Regions from separate parts of the Homo sapiens genome. Here regions 1, 3, 4, 5, 6 and 7 are each reported to be linked to region 2. Evidence: microRNA targets listed by miRTarBase, many of them from high-throughput screens and not tested one by one. Region 2 holds a microRNA gene; each other region holds the end of a gene's coding sequence. Distances are from middle to middle.
The links. The annotated mature microRNA hsa-miR-545-3p reads UCAGCAAACAUUUAUUGUGUGC and lies in region 2 at 2,153-2,174, opposite strand. An mRNA with a match to its seed (bases 2 to 7 or 8) in the 3' UTR can be bound and repressed. Matches are read on the target gene's strand: a 7mer-m8 pairs with bases 2 to 8, a 7mer-A1 pairs with bases 2 to 7 and ends in A, and an 8mer does both.

Region 1: miRTarBase lists KLHL18 as a target of hsa-miR-545-3p. Seed matches in the 3' UTR shown: 7mer-m8 at 2,313-2,319.
Region 3: the mRNA of SYP is a reported target of hsa-miR-545-3p. Seed matches in the 3' UTR shown: 7mer-m8 at 476-482.
Region 4: miRTarBase lists AGO4 as a target of hsa-miR-545-3p. Seed matches in the 3' UTR shown: 8mer at 2,248-2,255 and 7mer-A1 at 2,999-3,005.
Region 5: miRTarBase lists STRBP as a target of hsa-miR-545-3p. Seed matches in the 3' UTR shown: 7mer-m8 at 1,548-1,554 and 8mer at 2,302-2,309.
Region 6: the mRNA of SLC39A9 is a reported target of hsa-miR-545-3p. Seed matches in the 3' UTR shown: 7mer-m8 at 1,886-1,892.
Region 7: the mRNA of RPRD1B is a reported target of hsa-miR-545-3p. Seed matches in the 3' UTR shown: 7mer-m8 at 2,509-2,515.

What each region holds. Positions count from the first base shown.
Region 1 is chr3:47,343,406-47,346,782 of GRCh38, forward strand. KLHL18 (kelch like family member 18) reads left to right here. Exons shown (of 10, transcript NM_025010.5): 10 at 150-3,377. The coding sequence ends at 536. Among named protein-coding and RNA genes, the nearest start is that of PTPN23, 36 kb to the right of the region's middle.
Region 2 is chrX:74,284,974-74,288,350 of GRCh38, forward strand. It overlaps MIR545 (microRNA 545), which reads right to left and starts at 2,236; the gene lies at 2,131-2,236. All of the region lies in intron 1 of FTX (FTX transcript, XIST regulator), which reads right to left. MIR374A (microRNA 374a) reads right to left here and starts at 2,384; the gene lies at 2,313-2,384. LOC124905199 (a long non-coding RNA gene) reads right to left here. Exons shown (of 2, transcript XR_007068266.1): 2 at 2,892-3,377.
Region 3 is chrX:49,188,691-49,192,067 of GRCh38, forward strand. It overlaps SYP (synaptophysin), which reads right to left. Exons shown (of 7, transcript NM_003179.3): 6 at 2,743-3,073; 7 at 1-592. The coding sequence ends at 2,747. Among named protein-coding and RNA genes, the nearest start is that of PRICKLE3, 4.0 kb to the left of the region's middle. RefSeq lists a silencer at 1,554-1,633 and an enhancer at 2,473-2,542.
Region 4 is chr1:35,853,230-35,856,606 of GRCh38, forward strand. It overlaps AGO4 (argonaute RISC component 4), which reads left to right. Exons shown (of 18, transcript NM_017629.4): 18 at 268-3,377. The coding sequence ends at 376. Among named protein-coding and RNA genes, the nearest start is that of AGO1, 28 kb to the right of the region's middle.
Region 5 is chr9:123,123,170-123,126,169 of GRCh38, reverse strand. It overlaps STRBP (spermatid perinuclear RNA binding protein), which reads left to right. Exons shown (of 19, transcript NM_018387.5): 19 at 497-3,000. The coding sequence ends at 573. Among named protein-coding and RNA genes, the nearest start is that of MIR600HG, 9.2 kb to the right of the region's middle.
Region 6 is chr14:69,458,306-69,461,682 of GRCh38, reverse strand. It overlaps SLC39A9 (solute carrier family 39 member 9), which reads right to left. Exons shown (of 7, transcript NM_018375.5): 7 at 1-3,320. The coding sequence ends at 3,090. Among named protein-coding and RNA genes, the nearest start is that of PLEKHD1, 25 kb to the left of the region's middle. RefSeq lists a silencer at 1,346-1,395.
Region 7 is chr20:38,089,097-38,092,473 of GRCh38, forward strand. It overlaps RPRD1B (regulation of nuclear pre-mRNA domain containing 1B), which reads left to right. Exons shown (of 7, transcript NM_021215.4): 7 at 630-3,268. The coding sequence ends at 779. Among named protein-coding and RNA genes, the nearest start is that of RPRD1B, 57 kb to the left of the region's middle.

The DNA of each region.
Region 1 (3,377 bases), not on the chromosome of region 2:
CAGCAGAGGGAATACTGGGAGAGCTCCTTGTCCCCATACCTCCCACAGGAGTTTGACATCATGGGGGGCTGCTGTGCCCTGCACGGTCACTCCATGGACTGAGCTTTGCCTCTGACTGTCCTGTACCTGTGCCTCTCTCCCCACTGCAGGTGGAACACTACAACCACCACACAGCCACCTGGCACCCTGCAGCTGGCATGCTCAACAAGCGCTGCCGGCACGGAGCCGCCTCCCTGGGGAGCAAGATGTTTGTCTGCGGGGGCTACGATGGCTCTGGCTTCCTCAGCATTGCCGAGATGTACAGCTCTGTGGCAGACCAGTGGTGCCTGATTGTCCCCATGCACACGCGCAGGAGCCGGGTCTCCCTGGTGGCCAGCTGTGGGCGCCTCTACGCTGTTGGGGGCTACGACGGACAGTCAAACCTAAGCTCAGTGGAGATGTATGACCCAGAGACAGACTGCTGGACATTCATGGCCCCCATGGCGTGCCATGAGGGAGGGGTCGGTGTGGGCTGCATCCCTCTCCTCACCATCTAAGGCAGAGGATGGGATGTGGTGGGGCAGGGATCTGGTACAGACATAGGCGCTTCCTTCCAGGAACAGTCCCTCAGGAGAGGCAGTGGACCAGAAGAGATGGCGAAACGTGAGCTCGCCGGAGGTACAGTTTTTCCAGGTGCTTAAGCCCTCCCCCACTGTGCCACCCTTGTGACCTTCAGGCTTGGGTCATCAAGATGCACAGCATGGAACACAAGCTCCTCTGGATCCTGCAGCTGGTGACATGGAACTGTTTTCTGGTCCACATGAACACAGGCTCCATCCAGGCCCAGCTCCTACCCACCGCCTCTCTGTGGGCCAGCTGTTCACAGAAGGCCTTCCATCTGATGCTCCCCATCGCCTGCTTGCTCTCCAGCCGAGTCTGGCCAATTTGCCATGGGGAGGCTGCAGTGTCCAAGCCTGCTGGAAACTGGGATGTAGCTGGGGACGAAAGGACAGACCCAAGCGTTCTCCCTGCCTGAGATGGTGTGGCCACAGCAGTGGAAGGCTGCACACAGGCACATTCCTTCTTCCACAGTGGGGCACCAAGGATTCTGTCCTCATTGCTGGGTAAGCAGGGAGAAGAGAAGTTTTCCCCATGTCTAATTTTGGGATTTCAGTGAGGCCTTTTGATCTGTCCAGGAGAACAGAAGGGAAAAAAAGATACTTGAAAGAAACTGAAGGAAATTTAAACAAAGAAACACTTGAAAGAAACTGGAAAGAAAAATAATTTTTTTATGTGAACAAATTTTGCAAGAAGAAAAAAGCATAAAAGACACTAACGGCAAATCTATGTTTAAATGGAAAATCGTCTAACTGGAGAAGGGCGGTATCCACCCCACATTCGGATCCCAGGGTCCTGAGGCCTCGCATTGAGCTGGGGGTTCCCTCTGAGCCCCAGTGTGTGTGGAATCAGTGCACTCTTGACTGGGCCTGTAGTAAGGTGCTCATGGGGTTTGTCTTCTCACCCACCATCAGAGGACTTTTAAAATCATAGGCGTAGAGAGTTAGGCTATCTGCTGAATTACTGCCACTCTTCTTGGTGGGGGCTCCTAGCTGTGGCTGGGGGCTCCAGGCGCCCCTGTGATTACCTCCTACTGCCACCATGGCGCTCATTCAGATTCCCCACTCTCACTAACATTGCTTCCTTTTTTGACCAGCAGGAAACAGCAGGTCTGGCCAGATTCTCACTTGCCCATCAATCTCGTTCTTGGATGATTTCCCTCATTGTGATGCTTCTGGGGCACGTTGACCATATGCACCTCTAGAACCTAACCAGGGCTTCCTTCTACCAGCTGTGGGCGGGCTTGGTCTGGTAACCTTGTCTGCTCTGCCATTCCACTGCTCCTCCATCCACTCGCCAATCCCAAGAGTCTGGCCTCCCTCCAGCCCTGGGCAGACTGACCAGCAAGGTGGACCTTTACATTCAAGCACAGCTGGCTTTTATGACATAAAGAACTAAAGGCCGAAAGAATCTCTTGCTGCTGCAAAGAACAGATTTTATATTTCTTCCTCTAATCTTGGCAAATGACCTTTACCTTTTGGAAAGATTTCATATTGCTTCCTCCTCCCTGGATAGGACCTAATGTAGCACAGCGGGACTCAAAGAGGAGGACATTTTCTCTTGCCAGTGCACTGGGCAGTGGGGCTGTCCTTCAACTGCTGCTGCCAAAATTGGTTTTCTAAAATTCTTCCAGTAGAGACTAAAAGAAGATTCAATTCCTGTAACCCAAGACTGAGTCTTAGGGCTCCAGTCTCCACCTGCTTGGTTTCCTATCCTTTGCTGCCTGCCTGGGGTGGCCTGGAAGCCTGTTCAGAAAGGCACAATGTGGAGCCTGGGGTGTCTCCCCCACCCCAGGACCGTCAGGTTTACCAGTGTGTGCAATCGCCATGTATTCAGAGGGAAGTACCTTTGTTACCTACAACTTAGGAGCTAGGCCTCTGCTACAAGCACTTGAAAATGATATTTTTATTTTTAACGTCTCAACAATCTGATATCGGATGTCGTTTAACCTGGGCTCGTGGTAGGGCTCCAGCATTTCTCCCTCCTTCCTGGTTTGCCTGTAGGGGTAGACTCGGAAGGTGGGTGGGGTGTGCATTTCCTGTTAGGAGTGTATCAGTGCTTGTCTTATTATAAGCCCCTTTCTTTTGTGAATTTGAAGTAGCACCAACAAGCCTGGATTGTGAAGGTATTAAGAATCGGTCTGTGGGCTACTGAGTGGGTCCTTAGGATACTGGCCCAGATTTTGCCACTGGGTATGGCAGATCATTTTCTACCATGGCCTGCTGCTCTTGTAGTGGACTTCCTGAGTCCAATCCCACCTCCTGGTGTAGAATTTACACTGCTGCACCTGAGGTCGATGTTTCAAAGTAAGATCAAGCCAGTGTTTTGATCTGGGCTCTGAGCACAAGTCAGGAAACACCAACATATTCACACTCTCCCAGTAGGTTCCTCAGTCCGATGGTGAATGGCTATTCGTAAATGGCTGGTCTGGCTCTTTGGTGTTGGAGCCTTTCCAATAGCCCCATGAAAAGAAGCATCACCCAAGGATATTGTAAAAAGGATGTAACAAGGAGATAGGGTAGACATTGTACTCAGTGGGCCTTGGGGCCTAGCCCAGCTCTGAGCAGAGGACTGTGGCATTCACTGTCCTTGAGTGTTTCACCTTCTTGGATAACACACGGGCCTTCTCTTCTGGATTTCATCAGAGATTACAGCCAGATGGGGGCTGAAGACCATCCTCTTGACCACAGAGGTGTGACTGTGGGAATTCCTCCCAATTTATGGTTTCCCAGAAAATCTTAGTTCCTTTTATTTATAGAATGCATGTCTTTTGTGTTAAG
Region 2 (3,377 bases):
AAGAAGCTTTTTCAGCACCATGATGGGTCAGATACAGATGACATTAACACAGAAGACAGACAGATTTTTAAAACCTATTCAACAAAGATGAGTTACTGTGATAACACAAACAGTCCTGAATCTTATAGTAACATTTCAGTCACAGGCGCATATACAATGGTGGTCCCATAAGATAATAACACCACGTTTTTACTGTACCTTTTCTATGTTAGATATGTTTGGATATACAAATACTTACCACTGTATTCCAAATGCCTACAGTATTCAATACAGCAACATGCTGTACAGGTTTGTAGCCTAGGAGGAATAGGCTATACCATATAGCCTAGGTGTGTAGTAAGCTATACCATCTAGGTTTGTATAAGTACACTCCCCTATGATGTTCACACAACAACAAAATGACTTAATGATCCATTACTCAGAACATATCCTGTCTTTAAGCAACACATGACTGTATAGTTAAATGTTAATTATAAAATCTAGGTGTTGGGTACATGGCTTTTCACCGTACAATTCTTTCAACTTTTCTGTATGTATGTTTGACAACTTTCACAATACAATTTTGGGAAAAATCCAGCAAGCAGCTTTAAAAATATGGCTGTAAGACCTTTCCTTCTATTATATTTTATTCCTAGGATGATCCTATCCAACGAGATGAACCTATTCAGTGTTTCCTCCATTTTGTTTTAGATTTAGCTTTCTCAAATATGACTTTGAGCTCTCCGACTTTTTAATGAAGTGAAATGAATCAACATGTATTCATAGGCAGGTTACCAAGATAGTACATGTAAAGTTGGGGAGGCACAAGGGGAGGGGCTCTAAGCTCTTGGAAGTCTAGGCTCACTATCTGTATACATCTAAATAAATGAGTATTTCAGACACCCCACTTCTTCATTTAAAAATTAGTGTTAGGGACCCTCTAAACATTTGCCTCAGCTTACCTTTCTGCCTTATCTCACATTAAGTCCTTATTTCCCATATTCTCATTGCAAAGAACTGTGTAGGAAGGAGGGGGGCAAGGACGAAGGCACCAAAGCATGCTATGTCCACGTGCTTCAAGTTTGAATATAATAAAAGGTATTTCTAGAGTAGAGGTTCAAAGCTTGATGTTGAAGGGCAGGGTATAACTGACTGACTGCAGGACCCTGGGGGAGGTCTTATAATCTTCTACTTTAAAACATGTCTTAGCTGGCTTATCTGTAAAAGAGGAAAAAGACTTGTCACAAGCAATGACAAATGAAGTAAATAAATATGAATTTCTGGTCTGGTGAATGGAATGAGAAATGAAACCATCACTGTCGAGTGATGATCCAGAGTGGGCACAGATCTTTTTCTACAAAGGCTTTGTGGGCCACAATGTCTCCAATATATTTAATGGCAAAAACAGCAACTACTTTTGCACCAACCTAATAGCTACTTAATTGTGCCACTGGGCCGCAAAAGCGGCCCCAGGTAAAACATCGATGAATGAACATGGCTGTGTTCCAATATAGAATGGTATTTACAAAAACAGGTAGCCCATGGGCAATAAAGTTTGCCCACCCTTGGTTTAGAATATGGAGTCTGGTTGGGTGCAGTGGCTCACACCTGTAATCCCAGCACTCTGGGAGGCTGAGGGAGGTAGATCGCTTGAGTCCAGGAGTTCAAGAACAGCCTGGGCACCATAACGAGACCCCTTCTCTACGAAAAATACAAACATTAGCCAGGGGTGGTGGCACACACCTATAGTCCTAACTCAGAATGCTGAGGTGGAAGATCACCTGAGCCTAGGAGTTCGAGGCTGCAGTGACCCGTGTTCGCACCATTGCACTCCAGCCTGGGCAACAGAGTGAGAACCTGTCCCTTAAAAAAAAAAAAAAAAGAAAGAAAAATGCAAAGTCCTATCTAAGAATACTATTTGGATGATTACCTGGGCCCTGAGGATGAGGCCCCAATCTAACAGTTATCACTCAAGTCCCACCAAGAAAGCAAGTGTCAGCAATAGCAACAGTTGCAACATCTGTAAATATCAAGGACTGAAATCCAAACACAAAAATGGCATTGTCTCATGAGAAACTCTTAGGAAGATATATACAGAAATATCAAATTTCTGACCACATGCTTTTTGAAGAAACAGCTGACAATCCAGAGCCTGTGGAGCTCACTTTAGCAGGCACACAATAAATGTTTGCTGATGAGTCATTCATTTATTCATCTAATAAACATTTACTGAGGCCTACTAATGTGCCAGGCTGGGCTCTGGAGATGAAGACACCTTCCTTGCCCTCAAGGAGCTCACAGTCTAACTGATAACAGGAAGAGAGACAGGCATATACACAGACAATTACAATACAATCTGATAAGTGCTATAACACTTATCAGGTTGTATTATAATGGCCGATGTAAAATTTCTTCCCAGGGGGTGCTGCTCCAGGCTGCTGCTGGCTGTAACATCAAGAGAGGTGAGGAACAAATTATAGAAATCAAAGGTTAAATGCTTTTCGGTTATTTCAAATATTCAGGCTTTCCCTAACCCGTGGCCATAGACGGAATTGGGAACTAGACACTGGCATGATGTAAAATGGGACTTCCATGCACAGACTTCCAATAAAGGAACTTCTCAATCCCCTCCTCTAAAATATGAGCTTTTTTTTTTCCTTTTTGCTTATACTCCTCTTAACCTCCCCACCCTACTACCCACATGAGCCTGGTTTAATATCTACAGCTAGCAAAATGCTGAAAAATGGGAGCTTACAACTAACTGGATTAACCCAGTGTAACCGGATAGCAAAAAGCAGTAAGTAATAGCTCATTTGGCACTTCTAAATCCAATAATCCTCATCCTTCACTGGAAAAAAAAAGTTAGAATGTTATTAAATACAAAATAGATAATATACAGATCAGAGTAGGAATAAGTTAGAAAAGTTTATTTAATAAACATAATTAAACAGATTCTCTAAACTAGAAATAACATTCAGTTTCAGGAAACCAGAATTAGACCCCTCCAAGACCTTTGAGAATATCTAATTCACCTATGTATTATAAACAAGAAAAATGAAACAGAGAGATAACACACTCTGCCCACTCCCTTTTCAAAATCATGTGAGTGATAGTAACAGACTCCTTGAGGCAAGATTATTACTGTAATAGTTATTTGGTTCAGATGGTTTTATACAAAGATAAGATGGCATTTTTCTGTGCCTCATACCTTTCTTAATAATACCTAGGTTTTTACTGGCTTTTTTGTCTCTGACCAGCAAATAGGGCTGATAACATCAGCAAGTTGTTGACAGTTATACTGAGATCACTGTTTTGGGACCCAATGTCTCTATGAGGCTGTTATTTAATAAGCTTAACATACTATTTTCCCCTAAAGTTATTTCACTGCTCTTGCCTAT
Region 3 (3,377 bases), 25 Mb from region 2:
ACTCCAGATCCACTCTGTCTGGAACCCAACCCCCCTGCTGACCCCTCCACTCCACACCTCCTCTCCAAGACCACCTTGGGTCCTAAACTGTCCTCTCTACCCCAAGCCCCCCCAATCTCTGCCTTTCTTTAACCCTGGAGTTGGATTTCCCTAACGGCCTTTGTTCAGGCAGGCATTGCTGGAGGAACCAAGGCCAGAGTTGGGAGGAGTGGAGGGAGAGAGAGGAGAGAGTCTGAAGTCACGCCCACCCTCCCCACACAGCCGAGGTCTGTTCCCTCCCTGTCCTCCTTTTAGATCCCCTTAACCTCAGGGGACAGGGAGGGTAAACAGAGAGGGGCCAAGGGATGCAGGGAAAGGGACGGGGTAAGAGAGGGGGCCCACTCAAGACTGGGCACCTAGTGGATGAGGGGAGTGGAGTGAGGGCAGGGCTCAGACAGATAAATAGATATTTATATATAATATATATATATATAAACAGCAAAGACAGGGTCTCCTGGCTTGAGGGGTGGAGACCTAGGGTATAGGGGTGGGAAGGGGGGCAGGCCTTCTCCTGAGCTCTTGCCCCCCCCAGGTCCTCCTGGGCTTCACTGACCTGTAGAGACAAAAGACACAGAAAGGAGAGGGGGTCTGACATGGGTGGCGCCCTCAGATAGGGGTTGGGCTGTTATGCCTTTGTCCTGGCTTTATGTCTTTTCTTCTTTCCTGGAGCCAGCTTCATCCCAGCTGCCTCTGCTGAGAAGATATACCTGACCTTGCCCCCACTGGGTTAGGTACCAAAGAGATTACAGTCTCCTTCCTCCAACCAAAAAAATAGTCCCTTAACAGGTACTGTTCTAGCCATTTGTGATAAACTATATTGAGCAAAACAAAGATCCCTGTCTTTGTGGAGCTTATACTGAAGCAGAGATAGACTTCACACAGCGAACATGATGCATGAGTGGATTATCTCGTATAACATAGGGTGACAATAATAAGTGAAATGGAAAAAATAAAGTGAGCTGGGCATGGTCGCTCACACTTATAGTCTCAGCTACTTGGGAGGCTGAGGTGGGAGGATCACCTGAGCCCAGGAGTTCAAGTCTAGCATTCCTAAAGTGCTAGGATTACAGGCGTGAGCTACCACGCCCAGCCTGCGACAGGGCAGAGTTCTGACACAGGAGGACTGTGGCCTAATTTAGGATTTAACAGAATCCCTCCAGATGCTGTGAGTAGAACAGAATGGAAATGGAGACCTGAGAAGAGGTCTGGGAGAGATGACAGTGGAAGATGAAGGATATATTTTTTGAAGGTAGGACCCACAGGATTTTTTGATGAATTAGATGTGGGATGCCCTTTCCATCCTGGCTAACCCAGTGTCAGAAGCTACCTCCATCCAAGTATTGCCACCTTCTTGCCTTCCCCCACTTTTTAGCCACCCCTTAGCCTTTTCCTCCTGCCTTTCCTCCCCTATATCCTCCCTCCTATCTGAGGGAAATCTCACTTCTCTTTTTCTTTTTTTTTTTGTTTTGAGACAGAGTCTCGCTCTGTTGCCCAGGCTGGAGTGCAGTGGCGCAATCTCGACTCACTGGAACCTCCGCCTCCCAGATTCAAGCGATTCTCCTGCCTCAGCCTCCAGAGTAGCTGGAACTACAGACGTGCGCCACCATGCCCGGCTAATTTTTATATGTTTAGTAGAGACGGGGTTTCACCGTGTTGGCCAGGCTAGTCTCGAACTCCTGACCTCAGGTGATCTGCCCACCTTGGTCTCCCAAAGTGCTGGGATTACAGGCATGAGCCACCTCACCTGGCCTCTTTTCTTTCTTTCTTTTTTTCTTCCTTTCTTTCTTTCCATTTTTTTTTTTTTTTTGAGACAAGGTCTCGCTCTGTTGCCCAGGCTGGAGTGCAGTGGCAGGATCATAGCTCACGGCAGCCTCAACCTCCTGGGCTTAAGTGATCCTCCCACTTCAGCCTCCTGAGTAGATGGGTCCACAGATGCATGCCACCACGCCCGGCTAATTTTTGTATTTTTTGTAGAGGTGGGATTTCATCATGTTGCCCAGGCTGGTCTCGAACTCTTGGGCTCAAGCGGCCCGCCCGCCTCGGTCTCCCAAAGTGCTGAGATTACAGGCATGAGCCACCAAGCCCCGACCCTCACTTCTCTTTTAAGGCCCAGCAAGAAGGCCGGCAAACCTTTCCAGGACCCCACCCTATCCCTCTTCCTCCTTTGAAATTCCACACTACTTCCCTCCCCTCCAGCGTTGGGGAGAGGCGGCAGATCTATCCCCTCCTCCCGGATTGGTGAGCTCGTCTGACCTTCAAGATCCACGCCCATTTACCCTCACCATCTATTGGCCTTATCACCTATTGGCTTATCAGTCACTTCTAAGACCCACCTCCTCGTCGCTTCCGTGGCTCTTGCGCTCCGCTGATTCGCCACTGCGCAAGTCCCCCGATATTCCCTCCCTTTATTGGTTGCTCTGCTTCTCTCCCCCCGCCTTTCCGCCGAGTTGCCCTTCTACCTCCCTCCCATTGGCTCTTCATTCTGTCCATCTTGAAGCACCATTCTTCTTTTCTCCATTCATTAGCTAGTTTTTCAGCTCTTAGCAGGTAGTTCTGCCTCTTGATTGGCTCCTTCAAACTTCAGTCCTTACTTGCCCCAGTAAACGCCTTACGTACTCTCTACCCCTGACTCTTATTGGTTCACTGACCCGCTCGTCTCCTTCCTTGTACCCTCCTTGGCCGCACCGCTCGCCGGTCACTCACCAGACTACATCTGATTGGAGAAGGAGGTGGGTGCACCCTGCGGGCCGTAGCCTTGCTGCCCATAGTCGCCCTGAGGCCCGTAGCCACTGCCACCGCTGCCGGCTGGTTGACCATAGTCAGGCTGGTAGCCGCCCTGAGGCCCGTAGGAATCCTGGGGCCCGTACCCGCCGGGGCCCTGCCCGTAGCCTGCATCGCCGTAGGCGTCCCCGGGTGCCGGTTGTTTCTCGGGGGCGCCGGGAGGCGCGCGCAGGAACGGGGCGGCCCAGCCTGTCTCCTTAAACACGAACCACAGGTTGCCGACCCAGAGCACCAGGTTCAGGAAGCCGAACACCTGCAGGGAGACAAGGCTCGGCTGTGGTACCCCGCCCATTGCCTTGGCGGCCCTGCGTGCAGGAATGAGCATGCGGGGAATGAATCCGTAGGCTCCGCAAGGTGGGGGTTTCTGAAACCCAGACTCTCTGAGTCCCAGTGCGAGAACGTCGATGTGCAGAAAAATCACCTCTGGCGGGGTGGGCGTGTTAGAAGAATTTGGAGCCCTGGGGATGCTGCGATCTATCAGTATTACATATACAATTATTTACATATTTGCACATATACACATTATATACACATTTATGCATGTTTAAAATGTAAAT
Region 4 (3,377 bases), not on the chromosome of region 2:
GACAGCGAGACTCTGTCTCAAAAAAAAAAAAAAAAAAAAGAAATTCAGTTGAGTCAACTGATATTTAGAAGGACATAACAAATTATTCAAGAAGCTAAAGCTTAAGCCTAAGATATTCTAGAATCTAGTACTGTTTGTGCTATTTGAAACGTGTGAAGTTTGAAGTGGTCTTCTGTTACACCTGTTTTTTGTTTTTTTGTTGTTGTTGTTTTTGGTTTTTTGTTTGTTTGTTTTGCTTTGTTTTGTTTTGTTTTATTCTCTTTACAGTGCGGAAGGCAGTCATGTGTCAGGACAGAGCAACGGCCGGGATCCTCAGGCCTTGGCTAAGGCTGTGCAAATCCACCATGATACCCAGCACACGATGTATTTTGCCTGAGAGTCTCAGAAAAAGAACTCAACCAATTTGGCACCCCATGCAGCCTCAAAATGTTTCAAATGCCTACCGCCTCTAGATCGAGCCACGTTGACTTCAGGTGGTCTTCTACCAGCAGCTCGGAATAGTTGCACTGAATCTATACTTTGCAGCACTGTCTGATGCGTCAACAAAATTGAGCCATTTTTTTAAAGTAATAGATACTAATAGATTATCTTTTCTGATGCACTGGACTGAATTTTTACCTCAATGTGCAAAGGCTGATCAGCCTGAACTTTCTAAAGGACTTTACAAGAAGGGTTTCTATGGAATATTTTGCTAGCTGTGGTGTTCACCGCATCCCTCTAGTCTTAGAAGAGAAGATTATTCCTTTTTTCTGTAGTCATTGAGTGGGGTATATGCATAAGTGGGAGAGAAAAACCAAACAATCTACTTCAGTTCAGTGTAACTATTTAATTGTGTGGGTCCATAGACTTTTTAATGAAGATTTCTGACTTTGCCACTGTAAATGCCTTTAATGAGCATTAATTTTTGAAAGTTTTACAGAGTTTTATTAGTTTTACTACTTTATCTTATTGATCTCTGCAGACTTGTGCTGGTGCAAGTACATGCTGACAGGCAATTTGCACTATATTTGGCTGCAGATTCAAATAGGCAGTTCTCTTATTTGGTCGACTTTTGTGAATGTGTGACATAAACAGATGTAATGCATGTCACAGTGACGGAGATAACACTGCCATGATAAAAGTACTCATGTTTCCCCTATTTGGAAAAAAAAATTGCTTTTAGTATTTTTCCAAGTTTTCAAAAGTGCCCATTTTATGCTGCTGTGTGGTTTGTTAAATCTAAATGATTTTTAAACTTTTCTCATAGAAACTTAACTTTGGCAATAAACATTTTTTAAGGTCTCTCCTCTTCCTTCCCCAACAATGTAGTTTTCTAGATGAGATTTCAGTATGATTTTATCAGCTATTTCTTATATATCATAATCTGGCAATTTCTGAAACCAGTCAGAAAAGACATATATTTCCATGCCTTTTTAAAGAATTATTTTTACCTGTTTTATATTCACAGTTGGTGTCCTGTCACTTTGTTTTAAAATAAGCTAGAACCAGGATGCTTCCTTATTGGAAAGGCTTTGCCAGTCCTTAAGGTACAATGAGTGATGCTGCAACTTGCAAATGTACCAGCATTTAAAATTTCTTTTCCTGGGAATCAAGGTAACTCACACGACTACTTGCAGTACAAATTTTTTGCTTCTCTTTCGACATGAAATGTACTTGGTGGGTTTTCCTTCCTTTTATTAAACTAAAACTGTGTGGAAAAGGTTGATTTTTCTTAATAGATTCTGGATTCCACTCACAGGGAGATGGGATTCCTTTCTTGTCCAAACAAAGGGAGTTGCTCTAAAGCGAGCATCAGTTAAAATGTAGGGGAAAATGTATTCTGTATGTAGTGTAGATAATACTTTGTGAATGGACAACAGTTACATAGTGTCTTGGTAGCACCAGCCAGTGTTTCCCAGCCCAGAGTTTACTGACTTGTAATTCTCTATCCAGGACATCAGGAGTGAGGGATGGAAAAGGGGATAAAAGGCCTGGAGCCACACTCTATATGGCTGAGGAAGGAGCTAGGGAAAGAGATAGACACAATGGGGTGAAAACAATTTTGCCGCCCCTGCCTGGAAACTGCTGGTGGGGAAATGATGGTGAAGGGTGTTTGCTTGAACTCATGAGACGGTCCAAATCTCATAAACTAGCCTTCTCAAAATCCCAGCAATATAAAGCACTGTTTTTCTTCAGTCGTTTAAATAAACTTGTAAATACATTGAAGTTTACATTTCCATGTGCTGTTGATCAACGGCGCCACCTGTGTTTGCTGAGACTGGTCTCTGAGAGAGTTTTATGTCGATCGAGGCCTGTTGCTCATTAAGCTGAGTGCAGACGTCCTTAATCCCTGCAGATAGTGGGATGAAAGCAAGTTCTGTAAAATGAAGCACAACATAGCCAGGAGTGAAGAGATGGCAGATGTTAATTTCTTAAAATTTTCCTTTTTTTTTTTTTTTTTTGCAAATACCTCACTTGGATAATACAAATCAGGACATGTTGGTGAGGGGCTGGCTGCTTGGCTGCTGCTTTTATTCACACTTGTTCAGGGAGAGCACAGAGAATACCCTTCAGCATGGCCACTCTGGACCCAAGAGGAGGAAAAAACGGAAGCTTTTTTAGGAGAAGGAGGACTTGCTGGAATCCAAGATGTGAAGAACTCTTGGTGACTGGCTGGCTGGCCAGCGGGCACCACACCTGCACTTGAGTGCCTCGGGCTTGCTTATTAATAACGCACAGAAGAAGCATCACTTCTCACCATCTCCTGGCATGTATGGAGCAGGGAGCAAGGCTATGTTCCCGAAAGCCCTGATTAGCTTGTCTTGCTCTACGCTCGACCTCGAACAATACAGCTTGTAAGACCTCAGTCAGTCCTGGTACACTGGGGTAAATCAGTGTGGTGGTGGAAGAAAAGCCGGGAGGCCTATTTTTATAGGAAAATAGTACCATTAAAGGTGCAATGCTGTCATTTTGGACAAAAGGAAAGAAATTTGGAAGAGCTGGGATTATTGGCAAAAACTTGCTGAGGGGTGAATCTTTAGAGCTAATCACTGCAGAATCAGAGTTGCAGCAATATGATTGCAAGCAAGTCTGAATGCATAGTTTTACTTTAATTCGGCTTGACAATTTGAATAGGTAACCCCCTCGGGACTGACTGAATCGTTATGCATGTGTCAATCAATGGGAGGTGTGCATTCTCTAGAAGTAGTTTTAGGCTGTTTGGTTTGGTTTTGGTTTTGTTTTTTAAATGCAGCCTGTTGAGGCACTGTCATGTGGTGTGAAAGATTTAAATGTAGCAACGCTAAAGAGTAATAATTTGGGGATAAGAAGTGGGGACATTGGCCGGGCGCGGTGGCTCACGCCTGTAATTCCAGCACTTTGGGAGGCCTAGGTGGGCG
Region 5 (3,000 bases), not on the chromosome of region 2:
AAGTAATTAATCTTTCCAGATTTGCCATGCCAATATTGGCCATAGCCATTAAGAAGTTAAGTAAACGCCTGGCCATGGCTCCAGCTGGAGCTGAGGTCTGCATGGAAAGCTATGCTTTGAACCTTGACAACCCGTTTCTCCTGGAATATGTGATATGCCACATTGAGAACCAATATGGATTTCTACAGTCGATTAGAACATGATTCAATAGCATTGCTTTTGATTTTCAGAATTCATGGTAGCTCACTCAATGAAATTGCTTCCTAGATGTAGCCATCCTGATTTTGAGAGTGGAAAATATTATTTATCAAAATATTAAGAGCAATTTCAAAATAGATCTGTGAGCGATTTATGGGCCTCTTGCAAAATGGTATACATGTTGACTGACTGATCTGGAAAAGGTTAATGATAATTACTGTCAGATATTTTTTTACCTGAAATTTTTATTGGAGTATTAAAACTTATTTGGAGTCCTCTCCGTTTCTTTTCTCTGTAGGTTTACCCAAGAGAATGGTTCTGTTACCCGTTATGAAATTTCCAACATATCCTGTTCCCCACTACTCATTCTTTTAGCAAATGACAGAAGCTAATTCCTATTGAACAACAATACAGTACAACACAGAATGTTAGAGAAAAAGCCTTTTTATCCTGCTTTCTTTGAACACATACTTGATCAAAATTATTTGTAAAGAACATCTTTCCTACTTTTTGATTTTAACAAATGCAAATTTAGTTCTCTAAAACTTGAAAAAAAAAAAAGAAACCAGTTCTGTGAAAACGGTACCTCATTTCTGGAAAATAACTTATACCAGCCCTTCTGTTCTAGGGAAATAAAAGTCTAGCAGTTCAAAGTTTAAGTTTTAAGAGACGTATCAGATTATGTAAAATTAAATTTGTGAAGGATGTATAGAGTCTCAAACACTGATCACAAATAAACTGCTTTGTTGTAACACAGAGTACTGCCTGGTTCCTGATGCAGTCACTGATTCTTAGTTGATTGATATGTATTTGCCCCAGGGCACTTTAATTTGGGCTGTAGTTATTTTTTTTAATACAATAGAGACTTTTCATTTAACTTTAACTTTGTAAATATTGAAGTGTGTAATAAAGCCAATAAAATATGGGTTTGAATATTGTTTTAGCTTATTATTTTTGATATGTTTTGGTATCAAATTACAAGGAATTGAAAACTAATAACTTAGCCCTAGAAGCCCATTCACTTGTAAGCAAAGTGCTAAAACAAAGCAAAGGTGATTGTTAGTTTGAGCCAGTCTACTCACTTTGTAAGCCCTTTGTACTCCTGTTGTACAAGGGCCATCCCCATGATAAAGGTTCCATTCTGTTATTTGAGCATTGCTTATTAAAATGATGGCACTACCCAGAGATGGGGAAGGAGAATGTGATTATCCTAGTTTATGAATTTCCAAGTTTTTAAAAATAATAAATTAATCAATCAATCACCCTCTCTTGTTCTTGTGGCCTTCTTCACTCTGTAAGATATTGTGTTCACTCCCTGGCTTTTTTCATGCAGATAGAAGATTAGTGATTTTGCTGGGATTCATTGAAGGGTCTCCTTTCCTCTTCAATTACATCAGAATCTAAAGCAGCAACAGGGTCCCCATAAAAACTTGCTCTTCGATTGTCCCAGTTCTTGTTGAGTGCTGCTGTGAAAAGTGACAGGTTTCAGCCATGGGTCAGCATTTCTTTTTAAGACACCTGATGATGCTGGTGGAAATGGATCAGTGGGTAACATTGTGCTGTTCTGTAAAGGGTGCAGACCTAAGTCCTCCACTTGCATTCTCACCTTGTTTGGAAAGCCAATGATGTTACTAGGTCAATGGTTTCATTAAGGTACTCACCCCCATGAAGGAGCAGCAGTGTGGTCCCCTGTCAATATTTATAAGGCACCATGTCTTAAAAATGTCTGTTTTTAGTATGAATTAGCTTTCATTTTCCCTATTCAGTTCTGCTTTTGGGAACTTGACAGGGCCCATCCATGAGAATGGGCTTCACAAAATATGGCAAATGTATGTACCAAATTCCTTCGGGACCACTAAATAAAGGTGAAATGGGCAATGTACAACAAATGTTAGTGTCACTTCTCAGATATATATTACACAATGATTAGTTTGTTTCTTCTCCTTGGTCTTTTGTCTTTATTAGTGGTGGGTGATACTTTAATAAAACCTCATCACTTGCTGGAAATAGCTGTAACTTATCATTCTCATCCTGTGCATTAGTGGCTAGACATAAACAAGAGGGCCCATTTCAGCTGGGAGTTTTCATGTTTCATTGATGCGTTTTGCTGACCTATGGATGAAACAGAGCCATCACTGAGAAGAAAAAGCATGGCTGATAGTGTCCAGTTTTTATTAATTAAATCTTTACAGTAGTCCTCATTGTCTTTGGAATACTATTAATTGGCAGCTGCGGCTGTATTGTTATTTGAAATTGGTCATCAAATTTGGATTCCACGTTGGAATCTCTAGATATTTCTCGTTAGAAAATTCTTTTGAAGTAGCTGACTCTGCTTCATAACTCACGCGCTCTGTAATGGTGAAAAGGGAGCTGTGCTGTTTTCCAACATGATGGCAGTCATTTCAAATGGTTTCTACCAAGTCTTTTTTTTTTTTTTTTAATTTTGTTGTTTGTTGGAAGTTACTAACCATGTTGTAAACCTGCCCAGTTGCTGCAAACTTTTACATTTCTCTGCTTTACTTAAAATAATCGAGCTGTCAGTCCTTTGTTAGAAGTGGTAACCATGCAAGTTCAACTGTTTAAATTCTGTAATGAATTAAGTGTCCCCCCACCTGTTGCCCTTCCCACCCTTCCATTTTGTAATGAAAATTCCACTTACAGCTGAAAGAGCAGAGAAATATAAATGAAGCTCTTGGCTTCACCAAATTGCCTGAGATTAACATGAAGTTTTGCTTCTCTGCTCTTTTCTCCACTGTAGGTGGTTTTTTCATTGACAGCCCCTATTGCCAGCCTCTGAGCGTC
Region 6 (3,377 bases), not on the chromosome of region 2:
AAACCAGGCAGTGACACTTAGAAGTAGGCTGGTAAAAAAAAAACACAATCACATTTTCTCCTTTCTGCAAAGAAAGGACAACTCAAAACAGCCACTCCCTTTCTTTTCTCTAATGATTCAAAATACCAGAACAGGGCTCACTTGGCTGTTTTGAATTGGGAAAGAAAGAGGTGAAAGCGGGGAGAAAGAGAAAACACATAACCTCTAGGTAGGTAGTACTGTTTCCAACTGTCTACGTTCCAGTGCAGAATCTTTGCTAAAAAAAAATTTGGCAATAGTGTGCACAGGAAAACTGAATCAAACCTGGAACATCACTGCTTTCTTGAAATGGAACTGACAAGCAATTAACTGGAGAATAAGTGAGGGGAATGGAGCAGTAGTATTCTTTAACTTAATTTGCCATTTAAGAGAGCACTTGGAATCTGAAGAAAGTCTATCCCTACCAAGGAAACGGAGTCAAATTGCAATTAAGATTAACTTTGGTTATATGGAAGCAAGAATCATGCTTCTCATCATCAATTGCGTCTCTTTGGTAGCCAATAATTCCATCTGTAATCATGGCAGCAACTTAAGTATTGCCAATGTTTTCAAATGTGTTACAGCATTAAGGCATCCACATCTAAAGAGGCAGTTTTAAACAAGAGGAAAACGGAACTGAAATGTGCCAAGAAGTGAACACGGACATGGCCTCTCCTGGAATACTGCCCACCATGCCAGCAAGCTCTTCCTCCAGTCAAGAAGGCCTGTGCCACGCTGCTTGGTTCCCTGCTGCCTGAAGATGCATTTGAGCCCTATGAGATTAGTATGGCTATTTCTGTCTGCTGACCAGGAGAGAAATGAGTAGTTCTCGAGGCAGCAGCTTTAAAATCTGGGAAAGCCCATACATAGCTTCTGAGAGCTAAGAGGGCCCTGAAAGGTTTGCTTGTTAATAGTGAGGTCCAGAGGGGAAGGCAAATTTGGAAGTCAGATGGTTCAATCCTTGCCGGAGTTCAAGGCTCCATCCAGCAAGATATACTAGCCAAACTTTTAAGCATGATGGCAAGGCACTGCTGAAAGAGGCTTTGGCCAGTAGAACAAATTACCATTGCACACAACAATATGATAGAAAGCACTACTGTCCAAACCAAACCAGACACTACAATCTGCTATTTATTTGACAAAGTCAGTTTCCAGAGAGAATCTAGGCAACCATATAGTTTTGAAGGACTAGATGAAACCTCAAGTCTCACACCAGTCAGCTGTTAACATCCAATCAAGGAAGTCATTTGGACTTTCCATACTATACCTTCTCTTGGTAGTAAAATTGTATGCAATTGTTGCCAATGACTACATACAACTGTATCCTATTTGTGCTACTTTCCTCACTGTGGCCAGCAGAGGGCTCACAAGCTTTATTTCCACAGCTGCTGATCCAGTGACAAATTCATGAAGGAAATAAATCATAGGCATGCTAGCTTATGCGTCATAGAAAACGTTTTTACAAACTACTACGTCCACTGCCCTGAAGAAACTAGTCTTGGTTCCCCCTTAGTGTAATGTGTTTTGAAATGGTATAGAAAGTAAAAATAAATTAATAATACAATATTATACACTTATTTGACAAGACAGGGTTTACAAAAATTTTGGCAAATATGAAAAAAAAATTATCCTAGTCTGTTAAACACTTTTGCTATCTCAATTGTTTAAATTACCAGATTAGTGATTGTGTCAATTTACACATGAGGAGGTGGTATTTTAAGGGCTCAACAAAGCGGCATTTGACACAAAGGTAATTTCTTTGAAGGGGGATAAAGAATAAAGATATTATTATCTTCATTATTACAGTTCGAGAAGTGGTTGTCCTGATAAGAATTCATCCCACACAAATATTAACACCAGCAGTAAGCAGCAAATTGTGGCGAGGAGAGGCTAGAGGGAAAAGTTAGAAGAAAAGCAAAGAAAAGACGAAGAGACAAGAGACATGATTCCAATAAGCTTTAAATCAATAGGCAAACACTTCTCATTTATGATCCATCTTGCTACAGGTGGTTATGTGAGAAGACACAGTGTCGCCAAAGCTGACCTAGTATTTAGGTCCCTAGAGGGATTGCTGATCTGCTAAGAGAAATAATTAAAAAAAAAAAAAACAAAAAAAAAGGACAACCATACATTTTGGTAGTCTTTTAAAAAAAGCTACTACAAAGATATCAATAACCATCCAAAAATCACTTAAAATTTAATATCCCTTAATTTCCAAAGACACTTTGTGATCTGACTGTTCTTGAAGGAAAGCCTAGAACTGAAACTACTAGAACTTGGCTCCTCTCTAGGAATGTGGAGACAGGTATTCTGCAAAGGAGAACTTGACAAGGAATGCTACAAAATACCAGTCACCTCTTTAGAAGCTCCTCCCACCTCTCCTGCTCCATTTGATGGAATGGCAGGCTGGATTCAGAGAGGCACGTGCCAAAGGAGCTGTTTAAATCCCTCTAGACATCCCTTTTCAATGGATATCTCTTTTGAGTATAAAGAGAGCTTTCAATGTGTCTTGCTATCATTTTCCTGACCCTAATCCCAGATTAACTAGAATCACCTTTAGCATCTAAGTGAGTGGGTGCTATGACCTTCCATCAACGCATGTGGCATAGATGCTAAAGCACCAGTCTTACATGGTGGGAACCATGTTAAAAATCAATGGATAAAGTAGCAGAGCCTCTAAACTAAGAAGAAAGAGACATAGCTTAATTACAGAACACTGTATTTTCATAATCACTATTTCATTGTGAGTATGAAGTTCTCCTCTTTTCCTTAAAACTAAATTCCATCTTCCCTGAGAATAGGGTTAAGAGAAATATTAAAACGCAAAATGTCAAGGGCCTTTTAAAAGATAACACAATGGGATGTCTATAGCTAACTGCAACGTAAATGTGTTTCTACTCTAAAAGCTTTTCCATTACTCAGGTTTTAACCTCACCTCCCCTCTGGACTCTAGGAATACATGTAGAGATGCGCAAGGTGAGACAAGAGACTGAGGAAGTGAGTAGCTGTCACGTGCCGGCTGTTCTCACTGGATGGCAAACGGCCCTGGACCAAGGCTGGACCTTGAACATTTAATGCTGGTGTCCTACTGACAGGATGAGAGGGATGAGGCAACCCAGAACCAGGGCTGCCACTTCCAGGCGGCTGAGGCCTCTCCCTCCCGTGGCATCGGGCTTGTGGCTGTGCCCTATTCCGCCCACCTCAGGGAGGACATGTACTGTGGCAACATAAAGAAATGTCCCGGCAGAGAAAAGCATGGCCACTCCCGTGGCGTTCACCTCTGAAAGGGCTTCTTTACTGCTCTGTGAATTAGAAGAGAGAAAGAGGAAAAACTAAGTCAAGTAAAATTCAGGGTCAGG
Region 7 (3,377 bases), not on the chromosome of region 2:
GGAGTGGTTTCATGAAAGCTGGGCTTTTGGGAGAGAAGTCTGGTGGCATTTTAGGAGCCCTAGGGGTCAGGAGGCCTAACCAGGGACTTACTGCAGTGACTCAGTTATGGAATGAGGAGGCCCTGGTCACAGGGAGTAGCAGTGGGGTATTTTGAGCTTCTATAGTGCTTGTTTGCAAAACATGATAAATTTAGGTTAATCTCCAAGCTTTAACATAGGAAGTATAACTTCAGTGTTTTTTTTCTTGCCATATCTAGGTGGAGTCCGCAAAGAAATTGTGAGGCTCAGGTGTCTGTTTTATTTTATAAAGCATTTTGAAACTTTTGAGAACCAACAAAAAGAGAATGCAAATACCAAGTGTTATTTCTTTCTACTTCCAAATCTCAAGCCCTAAATTGAATACCATTTAATTCACTGTTGCCAATATGGCACTCTGCGTTCCTTTTTTGATAGAAAGTTTTGCCTTTTGAGCATTTGAAGCCCTAGCTTTGTGATATAGCTGAACAGGGTGGGCAGGCTGGTGGGGACAAGGAAGAACACGAGGACGAGAGTAGCTGCCCGGCTCCAGCAGCACCCATGCCCTCGGCACGCACAGACTTAACGGTATTGTCTTCTCTTTATCTCCTTAGGAATACAAACAGAAGCTTGCACGAGTAACCCAGGTCCGCAAGGAACTGAAATCCCATATTCAGAGCTTGCCAGACCTCTCACTGCTGCCCAACGTCACAGGGGGCTTAGCCCCCCTGCCCTCTGCTGGGGACCTGTTTTCAACTGACTAGGATGGGTGTCATGTCCCAGATTTCTGTTTGTACCAGCAGAAAGAAGAGGGCAAGTCATGGTTGGAAATAACCTTCTAGCCCCTGGTTCTATCCCTTCTTCCGCCCAGCCCCCCAGCCTCAAGAAAGAACCTCAGACTCTGATTCTCCTCTTCAGCCTCTCATCTTGAGCACAGTTCAGAACAGTGGCGACTGGAATCTGGTTTATATTCATATTTGCAAAGACTACAGACTTTTTCTCCCACTTCATATTTTCATGCCCCCCTGTTGGTTTTCCATTCTTAACTGTCTCCTTATACCTAAGAAGTTATGAAAATCATGTGTACTTCTGGAAGCTTTCGAAAGAATCTTGTCCCTCATGACAGCATTTTATCATGAAAGCAGCTTCTCCTTTCTGGGCTGGGCTTGTTCAAGTTCGGTGTGGGCTTCCACTAAGGCACTTGTCCTGGAGACGTTGGCTTTCCCAGCTGCATCTGCCCCAAAAGGTTGTAGGCACAGCTGTCGTAGCGTTGCCATAAAGAGTTTGCCAAATCTCTGATCCTCCCTTTCCATTGCTTCTCCTAGTGATGCACGAAGATTAGGTGCATTTATTTTGTAAACAGATTGGAGAATCTAGCAATAAGATTCAAAGCTAATCTGGAGCATAAAGGCACAGTTCAGAGACAGAATAACAGGGATCACAAGCATGAATTAAAAGGAATTTATTTGCTTCAAGTTCCTAGATACAACCTTCCCATGCTGCACTTCTCCACTGTCGGAGCACGTTCCGAAAAACAGAATGCCTTGATCCCTGGTGGGTGCGAAGGCAGTTGTTAGGGATGGCAGGCATTGGTGGGCTCCAAAAGATGAAGGCCCCACACACAGGTGTGCTGCATTTGGGATCTGTGTGGGTGTTTCTTGGACCCTTTCTTCTGGGAGTAGGGTACACACTAACGTTTAATCCGCTGTCTGGGTGCATGTCCACAGTACGGTGGCTAAACTCGAACATCACTGCAAATAGGACGCTGAGCAGGTCCGTCTGTCATGTCACGCCACTGCACAGGTCCTTGTCCCCACACGACGGGGAGTACTTGCGTCAGATGTTATTGAATAGCTCGTCTCGGGCAGGGGAAGCGGGGAGTTGGGGATATTAATTGGGGGTTTTAATTCTATTATCATGTCAGCTGACATTATGACTATATAATGTAGTTAGAGACAATTTTTATCTTGCTTATAGTAAAGGTTCAGCCTGCCAATTGTAAATCATTCTAATTTGGCAGGCTTATTTTTGACATTGGAAAGGGCAGAAAGCGATTTGCCCCAGTAGTGTAATAGGAGTTATAGACCAGAGGCTGAAACCCAAACTATATAAAAAGGAATTCAGTGGAGGGGGCTTTGTAATCTCCATTAATTTGTGTTGCTACTTCCAGGATCACCAAAAATTACATGTAATTTTACATGTTAAACACATTGAAACATAACCTATGTTTATAAAGCATAACGGGCTTCCCTTCCAGAAGCTCTCCTGCTTGTCATGAAGTGAGAACAATGAAAAGTCATAGCAGATACTCAGTTTAACTCTGTGTAGAACCTAGTAGTGTTTGAGCTGTTATTCAGATTTGAATTCAGACTGTGTGTTGTTTGCTTATGGACACTGCCTGTCGTTCTGTCACTGTTAAATTAATGAGTCTATAAGGTTTTTCTTCCAGAGGCCATAGGTGACATCACTAAAATTGCAAGATAAATTGTAATCTTTGCTGCTGCTGCACTCCCCAACCTCTCCCCCACCCCCCGTGGTGTGCTGCTTTCTAGATGAGCGTGTTTTGGAGCAGGCCCATCTGGGACACTCTATGCTTTCACCAAGGAAGTGCGATCTGAGCAGCCACAATCCAGCCAAAAGAGGATCGTAGATATTTGCTCTGATCAACTAGATGAAAATATAGCAGAATGGATTTAGCCCACTGCTCTGTTTTATCCAACTGAGTCTCTGACCAGCAATTGGTGCATAATTATTACAGCAAAAGTTAAGAAATGAAACTGTAGCAATTATGTAAATGAATGTGTTGGCCTCTTAATACCTGTTACTAGTGGACTTCCTGTGAGGAAGTTAGTTTTTTGTTTTGATGAAATGCTTTCGTTTTTTAAATCTTAATTCTGCTGTCCACATCCTCCCAAAGTGTGCTTACTTCATTTGTTTAATTTAAATGAACTTTCCTCCTTGTATGTATGAGGTGACTTGGTGGGTGGGGTGGGTGGTTTTTGTTTTTGTGTTTTTTCTTTCTTAGGGCATCTGTAGGCCTCAAAGGACCTTTCCTTTAGGTCATATTCCTCAGAAAGTCTTCAATCTTCCCTTGTTTTTGTTTGTTTGTTTTTCTTAAAGAATATTTTCAAAGCTTAAATTTGTATATTAATTTAGGACTATTTAGAAGTATAGGCTGTCGTTGGCGGCAGCAGTATATTCTGAAATGTCTCATAGATATATATTTTTGAATAAAGATGGTGTTGTTGAACAACATTGTGTGATTTTTTTTTTAAACTACCCTGTTACTGAAAACAGTGCCTTTCTTTGTAAGCAGTGGGTGATTAGTAATCACCAATAGAGAATGTGCTGTCGGCACAGAA